2 separate regions of the Homo sapiens genome follow, and region 2 is linked to region 1. Evidence: fine-mapped expression QTL. A gene starts in region 1. The other region holds a variant in brackets. All regions are shown on one strand. Distances are between the middles of the regions. Region 1 holds the start of NEMP1 (nuclear envelope integral membrane protein 1). Region 2 has its middle 43 kb from the start of HSD17B6.

The links. PIP is the estimated chance that this variant, and not a neighbour inherited with it, causes the effect. A credible set is the group of variants that fine-mapping cannot tell apart.
Region 2: its variant is the best candidate, but not a certain one, in a credible set for the expression of NEMP1 in whole blood (TwinsUK, PIP 0.85).

What each region holds. Positions count from the first base shown.
Region 1 is chr12:57,073,453-57,082,973 of GRCh38, reverse strand. NEMP1 (nuclear envelope integral membrane protein 1) reads left to right here and starts at 4,183. Exons shown (of 9, transcript NM_001130963.2): 1 at 4,183-4,355. The coding sequence starts at 4,229. RefSeq lists enhancers at 4,209-4,258, 4,379-4,628.
Region 2 is chr12:56,801,339-56,810,859 of GRCh38, reverse strand. No RefSeq gene overlaps it. Among named protein-coding and RNA genes, the nearest start is that of HSD17B6, 43 kb to the right of the region's middle. RefSeq lists an enhancer at 5,541-6,190. The variant C/T (reference allele first, on the strand shown) is at 4,409.

The DNA of each region.
Region 1 (9,521 bases):
TCACAGCTCATTGCAGTCTTGACTTCCCAGGCTCAGGTGATTCTCCCACGTCAACCTCCCAAGTAGCTGGGACCACAGGTGCATGCCACCACACCTGGCTAATTTTTTTTTTTTTTGTATTCTTTGTAGAGACGGGGTTTCACTATGTTGCCCAGGCTGGTCTCAAACTCCTAGGCTCAAGTGATCCACCTGCCTCGGCCTCCCAAGACATTGGGATTACAGGCATGAGCCACTGCACCTGCCCAATTTATTCATTTTTTTAGCAACAAGGTCTTACTCTGTCACCCAGGGTGGAGTGCAGAGGCATGATCATGGCTCACTGCAGGCTCAACCTCCCAGACTCAAGTGATCGTCCCATCTCAGCCTCCTGAGCAGCTGGGACTACAGGCACGTGCCAACACACTTGGCTAATTTTTGTATTTTTGTAAAGACAGAGTCCTACTATGTTGCCCAGGCTGGTCTTGAATTCCTGGGCTCAAGCCATCCTCAGACCCGGTCTCCTAAAGTGCTGGGATCACAGGTGTGAACCACTGAGGCTAGCCAACTTTATTTTTAGAAACATTACATGTACAGAAAAATTGAAAAGATAATATGGTGAATTCCTATATACCCTACATTCAATTTCCTCAATTATTATCTGACATTAGTATGGTACATTTAGCACCATTAATGAAACAGTATTGAAACATTATTATTAACTAAAGTCTACAGTTTATTCAGATTTCCTTTGAGTTTTTGTTGTTGTTGTTGTTGTTTAGACTGAGTCTTACTCTGTCACCGGGCTGGAGTGCAGTGGCACTGATCTTGGCTCACTGCTGCAACCTCCGCCTCCCAGGTTCAAGTGATTCTCCTGCCTCAGCCTCCTGAGTAGCTGGGTTTACAGGTGCCCGCCATACGCCCAGCTAATTTTTGTATTTTTAGTAGAGACGGGGTTTCACTATGGTGGCCAGGCTGGTCTTGAACTCCTGATCTCGTGATTCGCCCGCCTTGGCCTCCCAAAGTGCTGGGATTACAGGCGTGAGCCACCATGCTCAGCCTCCGTGTTTTTTTTTGTTTTCTTATTTTTTGAGACGGAGTCTTGCTCTGTCGCCCAGGCTGGAGTGCAGTGGAGCGATCTCAGCTCACTGCAAGTTCCGCCTCCCAGGTTCACACCACTCTCCTGCCTCAGCCTCCTGAGTAGCTGGGACTACAGGTACCTGCCACCACGCCCGACTAATTTTTTTTATTTTTAGTAGAGACGGGGTTTCACCATGTTAGCCAGGATGGTCTCCATCTCCTGACCTCATGATCCGCCCGCCTCAGCCTCCCAAAGTGCTGGGATTACAGGCATGAGCCACCGTGCCCAGCCTCGTTTTTTTAAACTAATGTGTTTTTCTGTTCCAGGATCCCATCTAGACCACCACATTATGTTTAGTTCTCAAAAACATAATGGGCTGGGCATGGTGGCTCATGCCTGTAATCCCAGCACTTCGGGAGGCCGAGGCGGGCAAATCACCTGAGGTCGGGAGTTCAAGACCAGCTTGACCAACATGGAGAAACCCCATCTCTACTAAAAATATGAAATTAGCTGGGCGGGGTGGCACACACCTGTAATCCCAGCTACTTGGGAGGCTGAGGCAGGAGAATCGCTTGAACCTGGGAGGGGGAGGTTGCGGTGAGCCAAGTTTGTGCCATTGCACTCCAGCCTGCTCAACAAGAGTGAAACTCTGTCTCAAAAAACAAAAACAAAAAAGCCCATAATGATGTTTGGATGACTTTGACAGCTTTGAGGAGTACTGGTCAGGTATTTTGTAGGATGCCTCTATTGGAATTTGTCTAATGTTTTTCTCAAGATTAGAGTGGTGTTATGGGTTTTGGGAAGGAAAACCACAGAGTTAAAATGCCATTTTCATCTCATGTTATCAAGGGTACATAGTATCAACATGATTGATGCTGACTTCCCTAGGTCAGCTGAGGGAGTGTGTGTGTGAAATACAGGATGACCATATCAGCACTGTTGGCCTAGACTTTTCCTTCTGAGAATGAAATCTCTTCTCTTGCCCATAGCTCAGCCCCATTTTGACTTTTTTTTTTTTTTTTTGAGACAAGAGAGGCTCGCTCTGTCACCCAGGCTGGAGTGAAGTGGCATGATCTCGGCTCACTGCAACCTCTGCCTCCTGGGCTCAAGCAATTCTTCTGTCTCAGACTCCTAAGTAGCTGGGATTACAGGAACCTGCCACCATGCTGGGCTAATTTTTGTATTTTTATTAGAGATAGGGTTTTGCTGTGTTGGCCAGGCTGGTCTCGAACTTCTGGCCTCAAGTGATCCTCCCACCTCAACCTCCCAAAAGTGCTGGGATTACAGGCATGAGCCACCATGCCCAGCCCATTTTGACTTTTTTTTTTTTTCTCTTTTGAGACAGAGTCTTGCTCTGTCACCCAGTCTGGAGTGCAATGGGGCGATCTTGGCTCACTGCAGCCTCCGCCTCCTGGGTTCAAGGGATTCTCCTGCCTCAGCCTCCTGAGTAGCTGGGCTTACAGCCACCTACCACCATGCCTGGCTAATTTTTGTATTTTTAGTAGAGACGGGGTTTTGCCATGTTGGCCAGGCTGGTCTCGAACTCCTGACCTCAGTTGATCCACCCGCCTCGGACTCCCAAAGTGTTAGGATTACAGACCTGAGCCACCATGCCCGGCCCATTTTGACTTTTAAAAAGGTCCTTGTTTTAGACCAGGTGCAGTAGCTTACTCCTGTAATTTCAGTAATTTGGGAGGCCAAGGTGGGATAATCACTTGAGGCCAGGAGTTTGAGGTCAGCCTGGGCAACATAGCAAGATATTGTCTCTACAAAAAGTAATTAAAAAAAATTAAGCCAGACATAGTGGCTCATGCCTGTAGTCCCAGCTACTTGGGAGATTGAAGTGGGAGGATCATTTGATCCTGGGAGTTCGAGGCTGCAGTGAGCTGTGGTTACACCACTGCATTCCAGAAGGGTTACAGAAGGAGACCTTGTCTCAATAACAACAACAACAACAACAACAACAATGAAACAAACAAATAGCTGGGCATGGTGGTGCATCCCTGTAGCCCAACCTATCTAGGAAGCTGAGGTGGGAAGATGGTTTAAGTCCAGGAATTCAAGGTTACACTGAGCTGTGATGGTGCTGTTGCACTCCAGCTTGGGTGTCAGAGAATGACCCTGTCTCTAAAAACATTAAAAAAAAAAATTCTTGTTTTGAAAGCTTGAACCTTCCCCAGGAGATGCCCCCTTCCTTGAATTCCTCAATTCATTTGGCTCTATCATCTGTAGTTTTCCTACCCATCACCATCAGATCCTCTTAAAAAAAAAGTTTCAATTTCTACTAACAGTTTCTGAACACCTGGATCTCTGCTGGGCCCTGTGTTAAATCATTGAATGGGAAGCAGCTAATCCATATAAATAACTCCGGCTTTGGAGTCAGTAGGATTTAGGTTGGGATCACAGACCAGATGAACTATGAAATCTTGGGCAGGTTCCTGTGGCTGTCTTGGCTTTGGCTTCTTAAATGGAGAGAATTATATTTGTCTCACAAGATGATAAGAGGAATAAATGAATCTTTCTTAATCCTAACATTAATTTTACTTCCAAAAATAAAAATCCTATGAATACATTTTTAAAAGCTAATGTTTATGCTTATAAAATATTGACACACACTTTTTTGTGACTTCTATTTTAAATCCTTTAGGACTTTGGAGAACCACACTTTTGTCAGTCGACTTTAAAAATCGTCCTATCAGGGTCCTACTCATAAAGCGATCTCAATTGTAGGCGTCTCATAACAGAAAGGTCGTGATAAAAAGTAACCGAAAGAAAACGGAAGGAACTTCAGACAGCTTCTATGGAAATACCGAGTTTGGTCAAGGAGGCCTCTCCCATTCCGATTTTCTATTGGTTAAACTTACCATCAATCACACCAGTTGTAAATAAACTGAAGACGGAAGCATGTTGTTAGCGGGGTGGGATCTTCCTGTCGCCACTGCTAGGGTGAGAACCCATTTTCCAATAGGCTGAAAGCTGCTTTTCCCGCCCTCTCTCTTCAGTTGCTAAGGGGCGGGACTCATAGGGCCCTTGGAGGGCTGGGTGCTCGAAGCCCTGCCCATCCCATTGGTTGATAGGGGCGGGTTTCGTAGAGGATAGGCTGCTGTCGTTGCCCGTTCGGAGTTAGTTGCTGGGGTAAGGCACGTGAGGAGGAGGTGGCTTGAGGCAACCATGGCGGGAGGAATGAAAGTGGCGGTCTCGCCGGCAGTTGGTCCCGGGCCCTGGGGCTCGGGAGTCGGGGGCGGTGGGACAGTGCGGCTACTCTTGATCCTCTCCGGCTGCTTGGTCTACGGCACAGGTACCGCCCGGGCAGCAGCTGCCAAGGGGGCAGGTGCCGAGGGGGTTATTTTTGGAAAAGGGATTGTCCCGAGGGCGCGGGCCGTTACTCTGCAGAAGGGCGGTGGCTCTACCGAGGGCCGCCGGCGTAGTGTGGTGGAAGAAACTTGGCAGGCTAGTGGGCGTCGGGACTGAGGGTCTGGGCCCTGAAGCGGGCTGGGGCAGCTTCCAGAGTGGGGAGGAGCCTGAAGCCTTTTGGCGGAGACAGGAAGGGAGGCCTAGACTGGTTGAGAAGCAGTCCTGGGGGCTGTGTCTCGTTGCAGAAGCCTTGAGTTTCTTGGTTAAAAGCGAGAAAACCTGGGGACCATTCTGGGCAGGCAGAGCAGCCGCGGGAAAGGGACCATCTCATTCATTCGGCAAATCAGCAAACACCATCTGAGCGTATGCTCTGTCAGGACGCAGGGCACGGGTGGCAGAACGGATGTAGTTGACAGAAATGCAGTGATCTCTACTATCTTCTGCTCTTGTAAAACCTTGATTCCTTACCGCCCCCGGCCCGCGAGATGGAGTCTAGCTCTGTCACTCAGGCTGGAGTGCAGTGGTGCGATCTCGCTCACTGCAACCTCCGCCTCCTGGGTTCAAGCAATTCTCCTGCTTCAGCCTCCGGAGTAGCTGGGATTACAGGCACCCGCCACCGCGCCCGGCTAATTTTTGTATTTTTAGTAGAAATGGGGTTTCACTATGTTGGCCAGGGTGGTCTCGAACTCCTGACCTCGTGATCCATCCGCCTTGGCCCTCCCAAAGTGCTGGGATTACAGGTGTGAGCCACCGTGACCGGCCAAATAATGCATGTTTATTTTAGATGATTTGGCAAGGTACAATTAAGTATAAAGAAGCAGGCAGAAACCACACTGTTAATCCATTCAGAAGCAATCTATTTTAGCACACTTTCTTCTGATCTTTTTCCACATATTTTTAATTTTTTATGAATTGATAATTTGTATCCAGTTAGTACTCTAGTTCTCTTCCCTGGAGGCTGCCAGTCGTTACCAGAGATAGTTTTCTCGTTTGATTTTGTAGTACAATAATTTTCCCAAGTAATTTAAAATTCTTTTTTTGTTTTTTTGTTTGTTTGTTTGTTTGAGATGGAGTTTTGCTCTTGTTGCCCAGGCTGGAGTGCAGTGGTGCAATCTCAGCTCACTGCAACCTCCGCCTCCTGGGTTTAAATGATTCTCCTGCCTCAGCCTCCTGAGTAGCTGGGATTACACTTGCCCGCCACCACGCCCGGCTAATTTTTTTTTTTTTTTTTTAAACAGAGTCTCCCTCTTTCGCGCAGGCTGGAGTGCAGTGGCCAGATCTCGGCTCACTGCAAGCTCCGCCTCCCAGGTTCACGCCATTCTCCTGCCTCAGCCTCCCGAGTAGCTGGGACTACAGGCGCCCACCACCACGCCCGGCTAATTTTTTGTATTTTTAGTAGAGAGGGGGTTTCACCGTGTTAGCCAGGATGGTCTTGATCTCCTGACCTCGTGATCCGCCCGCCTCGGCCTCCCAAAGTGCTGGGATTACAGGCATGAGCCTCCACACCCGGCCTTAAAATTCTTTGTAAATGTTGTCTTACTTGTATTACATTCCAATGTATGTGCAGATGTTCATTTAATTTTTTTTCTCCACCCCCCGCCCGCCCCGCCCCGCAGAATGTAGTCTTGCTGTCTGGCCCAGGCTGGAGTGCAGTGGTGCAATCTCGGTTCCTGTTTCAAGCCATTCTCCCATCTCAGCCTCCCAAGTAGCTGGGACTACAGGCATGTGCCACCACACTCGGCTAATTTTTTTTTTTTTGAGACAGAGTTTCGCCCTCGTTGCCTAGGCTGGAGTGCAATGGCACTATCTAGGCTCACTGCAACCTCAGCCTCCAGAGTTCAAGCACTTCTCCCTCTGCCTCCCGAGTAGCTGGGATTATAGGCGCATGCCACCATGCCTGGCTAACTTTTTGTATTTTTTGTACAGACGGGGTTTCACCAGGCTGGCCAGGCTGGTCTCAAACTCCTGACCTCGTGATCTGCCCACCTCAGCCTCCCAAAGTGCTGGGATTACAGGCGTGAGCCACCACGCCCAGCCACACTCAGCTAATTTTGTATTTTTAGTAGAGATGGGGTTTCACCATGTTGGCTAGGTTGGTCTCGAACTCCTGACCTCAGGTGTTCCGCCCGCCTCAGCCTACCAAAGTACTGGGATTACAGGCGTGAGCCACCATGCCTGGCCTTCATTTATTATTTTTTAGTGACGTGGTTTTGCTGTGACACCCAGGCTAGAGTGCAGTGCACAATCATAGCTCACTGTAACTTCCCACCTCGGTCTCCCCAAGTAGCTGGGACTACAGGCACGTGCCATCTGCCTGGTAAAAATCATTATTAATGTTGTGGATTAAACATTTGGTTGGATATTGGTGGTTTGTACTGTTGGTTGGATATTTGTGGTATTTCTAGTTTTTCATTGTTGTAAGTTTGTGAACATCTTTGTGTATACATTTTTATTTATTTATTTATTTATTTTTTTGAGATGGAGTCTTGCTCTGTTGCCCAGGCTGGAGTGCAGTGGTGCCATCTCGGCCACCTAGGTTCAAGCGATTCTCCTACCTCACCCTCCCGAGTAGCTGGGATTACAGGTGTGTGCCACCATGCCCGGGTAATTTTTTTGTATTTTTAGTAGAGTGGGATTTCGCCATGTTGGCCAGGCTGGTCTCAAACTCCTGACCTCAAGTGATCTGCCCGCCTCAGCCTCCCAAAGTGCTGGGATTACAGGTGTGTGCCACCATGCCCGGGTAATTTTTTTGTATTTTTAGTAGAGTGGGATTTCGCCATGTTGGCCAGGCTGGTCTCAAACTCCTGACCTCAAATGATCTGCCCGCCTCAGCCTCCCAAAGTGCTGGGATTACAGGTGTGAGCCACCGTGCCTGGCCTTATTTTTTTTTCTTTTTTTTTTTGTAGAGATGGGGTTTCATCATGTTGGCCAGGCTGGTCTCAAACTCCTGAGGTCAGGCAATCCCCTCACCTTGGCTTCCCAAAGTCCTGGGACTACAGGCGTGAGCCACCACGCCTGGGCCCAACTATTTATTTATTTATTTATTTATTTATTTATTTATTGATATTGAGATGGAGTCTTGCTCTGTCGCCCAGGCCGGAGTGCAGTGGTGTGATCTTGGCTCCCAACTATTTATTTATTTATTTATTTATTTATTTATTTATTTATTTATATTGAAATGGAGTCTTGCTCTGTCGCCCAGGCTGGAGTGCAGTGGTGTGATCTTGGCTCACTGCAAGCTCCACTTCCCGGGTTCATGCCATTCTCCTGCCTCAGCCTCCCAAGTAGCTGGGACTACAGGCGCCCGCCACCGTACCCAGCTAATTTTTTTTGTGCTTTTAGTAGAGATGGGGTTTCACCTTGTTAGCCAGGATGGTTTCAATCTGCTGACCTGGTGATCCACCTGCCTCGGCCTCCCAAAGTGGTGGGATTACAGGTGTGAGCCACGGCGCCCAGCCCCTTATTTATTTTTTTGAGACGTAGTCTTGCTCTGTCACCCAGGCTGGAGTGCAGAGGCGCGATCTCGGCTCACTGCAGTCTCCCCTCCCAGGTTCAAGCGATTCTTCTGCCTCAGCCTCCCAAGAAGCTGCGATTACAGGTGCCCGCCACCATGCCCAGCTGATTTTTTTGTATTTGTAGTAGAGACGGGGTTTCACCATGTTGGCCAGGCTGGTTTTGAACTCCTGACCTCAAGTGATCCGTCTGCCTTGGCCTCCCCAAGTGCTGGGATTTCAGGTGTGAGCCACCATGCCCGGCTGGACAGTGGTCACTTTTAAATCTTGAATTAGCTGATATTAAATACAAATTGAGAGGAGAATCTTCTGTTTTGGTAAATCAGAGGGACTGCATGTAATCATTGCCTGCTGTTAAAATTTGAAGTGACACAAAACAGCTGGAAGGAAACAACCTTGAAATCTTTTAGTATCCTCCAAAAGTACTATATATTAAAAATATTGCTGGCTGGGCGTGGTGGCTTACGCCTGTAATCCCAGCACTTTGGGAGGCTGAGGTGGGTGGATCAGTTGAGGCCAGGAGTTCTAGATCAGTCTGGCCAACATGGTGAAACCCCATCTCTACTACAAAAATACACACACACAAAAAAAGTTAGCCAATTGAGTTGGCTCATGCCTGTAATGCCAGCTACTCAGGAGGCTGAGGTGGGAGAATCGCTGGAACCTGGGAGGCAGAGGTTGCAGTGAGCCAAGATCGCACCACTGTATTCCAGCCTGGGTGACAGAGTGAGACCCTGTCTGAAAAAAAAAAAAAAAAATGCTGGCTGGGCATGGTGGCAGATCTGTAATCCCAGTGCTTTGGGAGGTCAGCGTGGGTGCTTTGGGAGGCCAATGTGGGAGGATTGCTTTAGGCCAGGAGTTCAAGACCAGCCTGGGCAACATAGTAAGACCTTGTCTCTTTAAAAAAAAAAAAAACTAGCTGGGTGTGGTGGTGTATACCTGTAGTCCTGGCTACTTGGGAGGCTGAAGTGGGAGGATTGTTTGAGCCCAAGAGTTTGAGGCTGCAATGAGCTATGATCACATTACTGTACTCCAGCCTGAGCAGCAGAGCCAGACCCTGTCTCAAAAAAAAAATAAAAAAATAAAATAAAAAACCTGCCAATTCTGTTCTACTCAGGAAAGGGATAGAGAAAATCAACAGATGGAGTAGTTTAGCTTACTTTATTCCTTTATAGGACAGGAAGTATATCTAGTGTTTAAGACCATAGTCAGACCTGGGGGTGAATCTCAGATAGGCTATTTACTATTTGTGTGATTTTGGAGCAAATTACTTAATCTTTCTTAAACATCAGTTCCTCATTTATAAAATAGGGATTATGAGAGTGCTTACCTCATAGCATTGTTGGGAGCATTAAATGAGACAGCATACTGTCTCTTTTATTTATGTATTTATTTTTTATTTTTTTGAGACAGAGTTTTGCTCTTTTTGCCCAGGCTGGGGTGCAATGGCGTGATCTCGGCTCACCTCAACCTCCGCCTCCCAAGTTCAAGTGATTCTCCTGCCTCAGCCTCTCGAGTAGCTGGGATTACAGGCATGTGCCACCACGCCTGGCTAATGTTTTTGTATTTTAGTAGAGACGGGGGGGTTTCTCCATATT
Region 2 (9,521 bases), 270 kb after region 1:
CAAGAACCCCATCATGCTGGCTGCAGTAAGGAGGCGCGACTGGGGCTCTATGCTTCATGGAGCCAGCGGGATCTGGGGACAAGCAGGAGCTCCGCCACTTCTGAGTTGGTGGGGCAGGAGCTCCCTGGATGCAGCCACAGCCACCCAAATCATGGCTGCAAACCTGGGCCTCCTGCTGCATGGAGGAGGCAAAAGCCCTGGCACCCCGAATGCTGTGGACCTGAGCCTCCCTGTGCTCTTAGGGAGGCCAGAACTAGGCAGCAGCCCTGACTGCCTAGGCACAGCTGCAACCACCCACACTACAGCTGCAGACCCAGACTACCCTGCACTCTTGGGGGCCCAGGAAGGTCCCACCTGCCCTCACAGGCTCAGAAATCCCTGCTGCTGCTGCTGACTGGCTTTCTGCCTGCTGTTGGCACCTGCTTTGATCTCAGAACAAAGTTGGGGCCAAACCTGGGTGCTGTCGCAGCCCAGTCAGATGTACACATGCTCAGTGCAGTGCTGACATGCCAGCCCCCTGCCAGCTCAGCCCCCTCCAGACATTGGGCACTGATGTGCCTAGGAGGGAAGTTGACAAGGGGCTGAGGGCAGCTCAGCACTGGCCTGCAGGTGCACCTTGGCACCTACAGCCTGGGTGCCATGAATGGCAGCAGGAGGCACACAGGTTCCTGGGAGGAAGGGGGTGGGTCCCTGGTGAGGCCCCACCTTGAGGCCAGGGAGACCCTGAAGACTGGGGGCCAAGCATGCCAGTCCCATGGACCATAGTGGGAACTTGTGGTGTCTTTTGTATGCCTGCCCGTGGCTGCCCATGGACCAACTGGTGCTCATTTCCTCCCCTCTGAGGCCCATTAAAGCCCTGGGCTCAGCCAGAGCTGAGCAGATGTCGGGACAACCAGCTGCAGAGAGGAGCAACCCACTCTAGGGCCTCTTCTCTGCTGAGAGCTGCAGAGTTGATGGAGAGATGACAGGGAGATGACAGGATGACCTGCCTGCAGAGGGGAGCCACCCACTCTAGGGTATCCTCTCTCCTGAGAGCTGTATAGACGACGAGACAACCACCTGCAGAGAGGCGCTACCCTCTCTGCTAGGATCTGAACACCCATCAGGACAACCTGGCTGCAGAAAGGAGCTGCCCCCTGTGGGTTTCCTCTGAGATGTTATATTGCTCAATAAAGCTCCTCTTTGTCTTGTTCACCCTCCACTTATCTACGTACCTCATTCTTCCTGGTCTCAGTACAAGAACTTGGGACCCACTGAATGGTGAGGCTAAAAGAGCTGTAACACAAACAGGGCTGAGACATGCTTCCCCCTTGCTCTCCATGTTGCAGGCAAAGAGAAGGAAAGAAGAGCTGCAGCCCTTTGGGGATCCCAGACCTGGGAGCTCCCCAAGACTGGCCCGTGATTCCTTCTTTGGGGCCCTGCAGTTCCTGGCATCTCCAAGCTTCCAGCCACCACCATATTCCCTGGCGCCAGCCATGGAAGCTGCTTGCGGTGCACCTGGTCCAGCCTTAGCCTAGCAGAGAGCCAGTGCCCATGCCAGCACCTGAAGCTGCCTGGCCCACTGAAGCAGCTGGCATGTCTGACTGTGCACACTGGTCAGACCCCATGCTTGCTCATACACCCTACGCCATTCCGCACCTGACTCACCCTTAGCAGGCATGGGAACCAGGCCAGTAACGTAAGCTGAAAACAGCCTGCTGGGCCAAGTGGACAAAATGAGCCCAGCAGGCCCAAGCAAAACTCAGGCAAAGGCACCGCCAGCCACAGAGGTTTCCAGTGAGAAAAACAACACCCCAAAGATCCTGTAATATTTTGGGGGCTCATCCAGGATCTGTGGAAGGGTAAGTAAAAGCAGATCTGCTCTTTCTGTCCTTTTTTGGAGTCCCTAAATTCCACAATAGCTAAAATGAAAGAAAAATGCCAGCCTCTGTCAGCCAGTTAAAAGCAACTAGTGTGGCTGCTGGACTTAAGACACAGAGGACAGGCTCGCTGGGGAGGACACTGTCAATCCCCCATCACCCTCAGGTTTTGGGAATGTTGGCTTTATTCCAACCCGGTTTCCTTTCATGGAGGTCTAGCCACTGGGTGGAAGACAAAGGAGGTTGTGGGGCAACTCAGAGTATCTGGCTGAGGCTTCGCCTCGTTATCCAAAGGCCCCTGGACTAACTCCAGTCCCCGACTGCCCATTAGGGTGTTGCCACTAGAACCTCCCATCTTTCCTATCTTTCTTTCTTTCCCACTCTTTCTTTCTTTCACGGCTGTCAAAGTTCCTATCTCTACTTTATATACAACGTCGAATGTTAAGGATGTTGTTGCAAACCAGAAATATTACTGGGTAGAATAAGCATTTGGCTTAGTCTTCAAAAGTATAAAATGGAAGGTTAAGAGTAGCACAGATGAAGCAAAGTGGGCCTTGGTATCTGTACATAAATTTGTGGTGAAAATGTTCTTGTCATTTCCTTGGTTGCCAATTTAGTGCCAAGAACCTTGAGGCACAGAAAAGAAGCATGGCCCCAGGAAGGAAGCTTTTCTGTAAATGCAAGGGCAAATGGTCCAAGGTCCCATACATGCAGGCCTTTTTTGCCTTGCAGGGTAATCCAAACCTTTGCTGATGTGGTAGGATTGAATCAGCTCACCTCATGGCCATCTCAGGAGAGCCTGCAAAGGGCAATCCCAGGGAAATAGGGAAGCAAACCCCAGAGGTACCTCCAGTGGGGGAATCAACCCCCTCCACTGTTTTCTCTCAAGCTTGGCCCAGCCTAGAAATCCTCATTTTAGGCAGGTCCCAGTCACAACTGCCCCTACAACAGATGCCTGGTGAATATGGCCCCATTAAGGTCCAGGTTCCCTTTTCTCTACAGGACTTAAGGCAAATTAAGGGGGATCTTGGCAAGTTTTTAGACAGCTCTAACAGGTATATAGGGGCTTTCCAGAACTTAACCAAAGTATTTGAGCTCTCCTGGAAGGATGTCATGTTACTTGTTTTTTTTTGAGACAGAGTCTCACTCTGTCACCCAGGCTGGAGTGCAATAGCGTGATCTCAGCTCACTGCAACCTCTGCCTCCCAGATTCAGGCAATGCCTCAGCCTCCTGAGTAGCTGGTATTACAGGTGTCCACCACCATAACCGGCTAATTTTTGTATTTTTAGTAGAGACAGGTTTCACCATGTTGGCCAGGCTGGTCTCAACCTCCTGACCTCAGATGATCTGCCTGCCTTGGCCTCCAAAAGTGCTGGGATTACAAGTGTGAGCCACTGCACCAAGCCTCATGTTACTTTTGAATCAAACCCTGACCACCGCTGAAAAGCAGGCCACCCTGCAAGTGGCAGAGAATTTGGGGAATGAGCCATATATATATATATATATATATATATATATATATATATTTTTTTTTTTTTTTTTTTTTTTTTTTTTTTTAAAGACGGAGTCTCACTCTGTCACCCAGGCTGGAGTGCAGTGGTGCAATCTCAGCTCACTGCAAGCTCCACCTCCCAGGTTCACACCATTCTCCTGCCTCAGCCTCCTGAGTATCTGGGACTACAGGTGCCCACCACCATGCCCGGCTAATTTTTTGTATTTTTAGTAGAGACAGGGTTTCACCATGTTAGCCAGGATGGTCTCGATCTCCTGACCTCATGATCCACCTGCCTCAGCTTCCCAAAGTGCTGGGATTACAGGCGTGAGTCACTGTGCCTGGCCAATGAGCTTTATATCTTATATAGGACCAGGAAAGGGTATGAGACTTATCTGATTGGAAAAATAGCAGTACCATTGGAGGTTGAAAATTGGACCCCAATGATGAAATAGGAGAATAGAAGAGGAAACACTTTCAGGTGTGTATACCGGAGGGCTTATGAAGGACAAGGACTAAGGCCCTGAATTACACCAACCTATTCATGGTAGAATAGGGATTTGATGAGAATCCCACTGGCTTCCTGGAAAGGCTAAGAGGGAGGGGCCTTGGTAAAACACACCTCTCTATCTCCTGATTCAGTAGCAGAATAGCTGGTCCTAGGCACTGACTTTATCACACAGGTGGCCCCTGATGTCAGGAGGGGGCAGCAGAAACGGGCTGTGGGACCAGATGGTACTTTGGAGGGCTTCCTGGTAGGAGCCACGTTGGTCTTTTGCAGTGGGAACTGGGAGGAAGTCCAGAAAAGAGGGGAGATACAGGAAAAAGGCAGAGGCTCTAATAGCTGCTCTGTGGGCTCATGGACCCCAGAGTCCCTGATATGCACCTGTTGACTACTGCAAATGTGGCAGGCCAGGTCATTTTAGGAGGGACTGTCTGGACAGTGTGGGGAGGCCACCTCGACCCTGTCCAGTTTGTGATGAGGACAATTAGAGGGCGGACTATCCCTGGAGACACGGGTCACCCGGTCCAGGGCCGGCCTCCCTTATAGTGCAG[C/T]GGGACTGACAGGCTCTGGGGCTCCTCTCCCCAGCTCCGGTTGTTCAGACTACCATTGCCACCCAGGAGCCCCAGGTGATTCTGGGCATCAAGGGAAGGAGGGTTGACCTCCTTCTGGACTCTGGAGCAGGTCTTTCAGTTCTCCTCTTCAATCTAGGCCCTCCTCCTCCTTTGGCACAACCGTGAGGGGCATCTCAGGTCTCCTTCTGCCACTGTCATAGTCCTGTGAATACAGGAAGCTTTTTCTTGCAACAGGTTAGCTTTTTTTCCTTTCAGGAGGCACCTTATTAGGCCAGGTCCCCAATTCCTGGGACTCCCATTCTCTCCCTTGTTTGAGGAGGAACTGGTCCCACAGCTTCACCTGCTTATGATAGGGAGGCAACAGAGGAGCAGCCCCAGCCAGTTGCTAGCTGCAATTTGGTGAGGGCTGCCTGGGACTAATTTAATGGGCCCATACACCCTCTTGAGGCACCTTTTTGTCCCAAGGTTTCTGATAATTTTGGAGATTGTGAACAGGAGTTTCTTTGAGTGAACGGAACTAACAGAAGACTGAAGTAATCTTTTTTGACATTTTGCTTGAACCATTGATGATCCTTCGTTTTGTTTTTCAGAATCAAGGAAGCTTTCCTTTTGAGATATTTGTAGCTTTTGACAGTTGTGAGGGTGAACCAACCAGTGATCTCTGACTGCAGCTCAGAAGAAACAAAAAGGATGGGCCGTCAAACTCCAATGGTCATGCAAATGGAGCCTCGGACAATGGCTCCCTTTTACTGGAGACCCTTATATAGGCCCCTGAGAGAAAACCTGACTGCCATTTTCCCAAAAACAATGCCCCCTGTCAGCATGAAGCAGTTAAGAATGGTCACTGTCCCTATCCTAACGGCAGTTAGATGTACCTCTACAGAGTGGTGATTGATGGCAGTGGTGGGCCATCTAGAGTGGCCGCTGCCATCACACAGGCTGCAGCAGGGAGGTACAGCCAGAGCTGTATACTCCATGCAGCTGGTGGGAGCCTCAGACAAGTGGGAGCCCTGCCCCTTCTGATTTGTTAGGGTGGGAGCTCCCCAGGTGCAGACACAAGTCTGCCCAAGTTATGGCTGCAAACTGGGCCTCCCAAAGCACAGAGCAAGAAGAAGCCCCACCCCCTGGGGCACAGGTTAAGCTGCCCAAGTCATGGCTGCAGACCCAGGCCTCCCTGTGCTCTTGGGGGTGCTGGGAGCAGGGAGGAGCCCTGTCCTCCTAGGCGTGGCTGCAGCCACCCAAGTCGTGACTGCAGAGCATGACCTCCCACTCCACAGAGCAGGACCCCCACCCCCTGGATGCAGCTGCAGACACCCAAACTGTGGCTGTGAACCCAGGCATCCCTGCACTCTTGGAGACCCAGGATGGTCCTCTCCCCCTGCCCTCACAGGCTTGGAAGTGCCTGCTCCTGCCGCCTGGCTTCTCCCTGCTGTCGGTACCCACTCCGATCTAAGAGCAAAGTCATGGTCAAGCCTGAGCTCTGTCACAGCCCAGCCAGGTGTGTACATGCTCAGGGAAGTGTTGACACACCAGCCCCCTGCCACTTCAGCCCGCCTCTGGACCTTGGGTGCCAAAGAGCACAGGAGGGAAGCTGAGGGGGTGATAAGGGCAGTTTGGCACTGGCCTGCAGGTGCCCCTTGGCACGTACAGCCTGGGTGCCATGAATGGCAGCAGGAGGCAGACAGGTTCCTGGGGGGAAGGGAGTGGGTCCCACGTGAGGCCCCACCTTCAGGCCAGGGAGGGCCTGAAGGCTGGGGGCCAGGCTGCTGCTCCCATAGACTGCAGTGGAAACTTGTGGTGTCTTTTCCAGGCCCATCCATGGCTGCCCATGGAACAATCAGTGCTCACCTCCTCCCCTCTGAGGCCCATAAAAGCCCTGGGTTCAGCCAGAGCTGAGCAGATGTTGGGATGACCTGCCTGCAGACAAAAGCTACTCTCTCTGCTGATACCTGAACACTTGTCAGGATGAATTGCCTAGCAGAGAGGAGCTACCCTCTCTGCTAGGAGCTGAACACTCATCAAGACACCCTGGCTGCAGAAAGTAGCTGCCCCCTGCAGGTTTCCTCTGAGCTGTTCTATCACTCAATAAAGCTCCCCTTCATCTTACTCACTCTCCTCTTTTCTGCCTACCTCATTCTTCCTGGTCACAGGACAAGAACTCAGGACCCACTGAATGGCAAGGATAAAAGAGCTGTAACACAAACAGGGCTGAGACATGCCCCTTGCTTGCCTCATTGTGGGCAAAGAGAAGAAAAGAAGAGCTGCAGCCCTTTGGGGAACCCAGACCTGGGAGTTCCCCAGACCAGGGCTGTGACTCCTATTTTGGGGCCCTGTGGTTCCTGGCATCTCCGAGCTTCTGGGTGCCAATGTGTCCTCCAGTGCCAGCCGTAGAAGCTGCTTGCAGTGTGCCTGGTCTAGCTGCAGCCTCACAGAGAGCCAGAGCCCATGCCAGCACCTGGAGCTGCCCGGCCCACTGCGGCAGCTGGTACGTCTGACTGTGCACAGTGGCCGGATCCCACACTCACTCACACACTCCTCACTGTTCCATGCCTGACTCACCCTTGGCAGGCATGGGTCCCAGGCCAGTAGGGTGAGCCAAACACAGCCTGCCAGGCTGAGTAGGTGAAACAAGCCCAGTGGGCCCGAGCAAAACTCGGGCACAGGGGCCACCAGCCACAGAGGTTCCTGGCTAGAAAAACAACACCCCAAAGATCCCATAATACAATGAGATACCATCTCACACCAGTCAGAATGACTATTATTAAAAAGTCAAAAAATACCAGATGCTGGCGAGGTTGCCAAGAAAAAGGAATGCTTATACACTGCTGGTTGGAATGTAAATTAGCTCAACCATCGTGGAAAACAGTAAGGCAATTCCTCAAAGAACTGAATTCAGAACTACCATTCAACCCAGCAATCTCATTACTGGGTATATACCCAGAGGAATATAAATCATTCCACCATAAAGACACATGCACATTAATGTTCACTGCAGCACTACTCACAATAGCAAAGACATGGATTCCACCTAAATACCCATCAATGGTGGACTGGATAAAGAAAATGTGGTACATATACACCATGAAATTCTATGCAGCTGTAAAAAAGAACGAGATGATGTCCTTTGCAGGAACATGAATGAAGCTGGAAGTCATTATCCCTAGCAAACTAACACAGGAACAGAAAACCAAATACTGCATGTTCTCACATATAAGTGGGAGCTAAATAATGAGAACACATGGGCACAAAGAGGGGAATAACAGACACTGGGGCCTGCTTGAGGGACGCAGGAGGGAGGAAGAAAGAGAATCAGGAAAAATAGCTATCAGGTACTATGCTTAGTGTACTTGGGTAACAAAATGGTCTGTACACCAAACACCCATGACATGCGTTTGCCTGTATTAACAAACCTGCACATGTACCCCAGCCTGAACTAAAATAAAAGTTAAAAGTAAGCTGGGCATGGTAGCTCATGCCTGTAATCCTAGCATTTTGGGAGGTCCAGGCAAGTTAATTGCTTGAGCCCAGGAATTTGGGGCCAGCCTAGGTAACATGGTGAAACCCCATCTCTACAAAAAATACAAAAAGTTGCCGGGTGTGGTGGTGTGTGCCTGTAGTTCCAACAACTTTGGGGGCTGAAGCAGGGGGATTGCTTGAACCTGGGAGGTCAAGGCTACAGTGAGCACTGAGCTGAGACTACACCACTGCACTCCAGTCTGGGTGACAAGATGAGACCCTGTCTCAAAAAAAAGAAAAGAAAAAAAGTTTAATTTTTAAAAAGTTAAAAATAAATAAATACATTTTAAAAATAATCTCTCCCTCACAAAGCATCAGAAAAACAGACTTTACACTTCACATAATTTTATATTTTCTGTGTTTGCTTCATTCAGCAAATATTTATTGAATAACTACTAGGTACAAGATCTTGTATCTAGGTTAAAATTTTATTGACACATTTATTCATTTCTTCCCAAGGACTAAGGTCTTTCGTAATGCCGATGCCCTCCAAACATTCTACACTTTACTTAGATCAGTTGGCAGGATTAAAAGGTCTTCCTGTTAATAATCAGCTTGAAAAAAATTCTTTAAAACAGTGTTTGGCCACAAGAAACTTCCCAGCAATATCCATTACCCTCAAAATTAGCGCAATCTGGTTCCACTTTGTATAATAAAATAATGTGTTGTTTTTCAATTGCTATTGACCCCAGGTTGCAAGTTATATAAACTGAGTGTGCCCAGGTGAACCAAGAATGCAACCATGGGCAGCATCTAAATGCCTGAACCAAGGAAAGGGGATGGAATTAAGAAGTCGACACCAGGCCAGGCAGAGTAGCTCACACCTGTAATGCCAGTGCTTTGGGAGGCCGAGGTGTGAAGATTTCTTGAGGCCATGAATTTGAGACCAACCTAGGCAACACAGCAAGACCCTATCTCAACAAAAAAAGAAAAAAAAAGCAAGAGGACACTTCATGGCATGATCCATGATCCAATCAGATTGAACCCTGGCATCATCCCATGGCATGATCCAATCAGATCATGCCTCCTGGCATTACTGCATTGCAAGATCCAATCAGATCATGCCTCATTACCATCTTCAGACTCCAGCTTGAAAGACAAATTTGAACATTGCCTCCTGTCTTGTGGCCAGTCAATTTGCAATAAAGCTTTGTTTTCTCAAAAGCTGGTGCAATAGTATTGGCTTTTATGCATATCAGGCAGCAAGCCATTTCTTGCTAGGTAACAATGAGAACATAGAAAAGCAGATTTAAATTACTAGTCCCTATTGAAAATATATAGTTTATTTTTTAATTCAACAAGTGCTTTTTACTGTTTTATATAAGGTATAGTAATATGTGTGTAAAGTAGTTCCTATAGAGATTACACAGACCATGACATTTTATTTTTATTATTAAATATTTGAAGAATACAAAATATTATAGACAATATTGATTATCACCTATACTGATGTATCTAACCCATAAGGTGATGAAATAATCTGTACAACAAAACCCCCTGACATGAGTTTACCTATATAACAAACCTGCACATGTACCCCTGAACCTAAAAGTTAAAAAAAAAAAAAAAAAAAGGC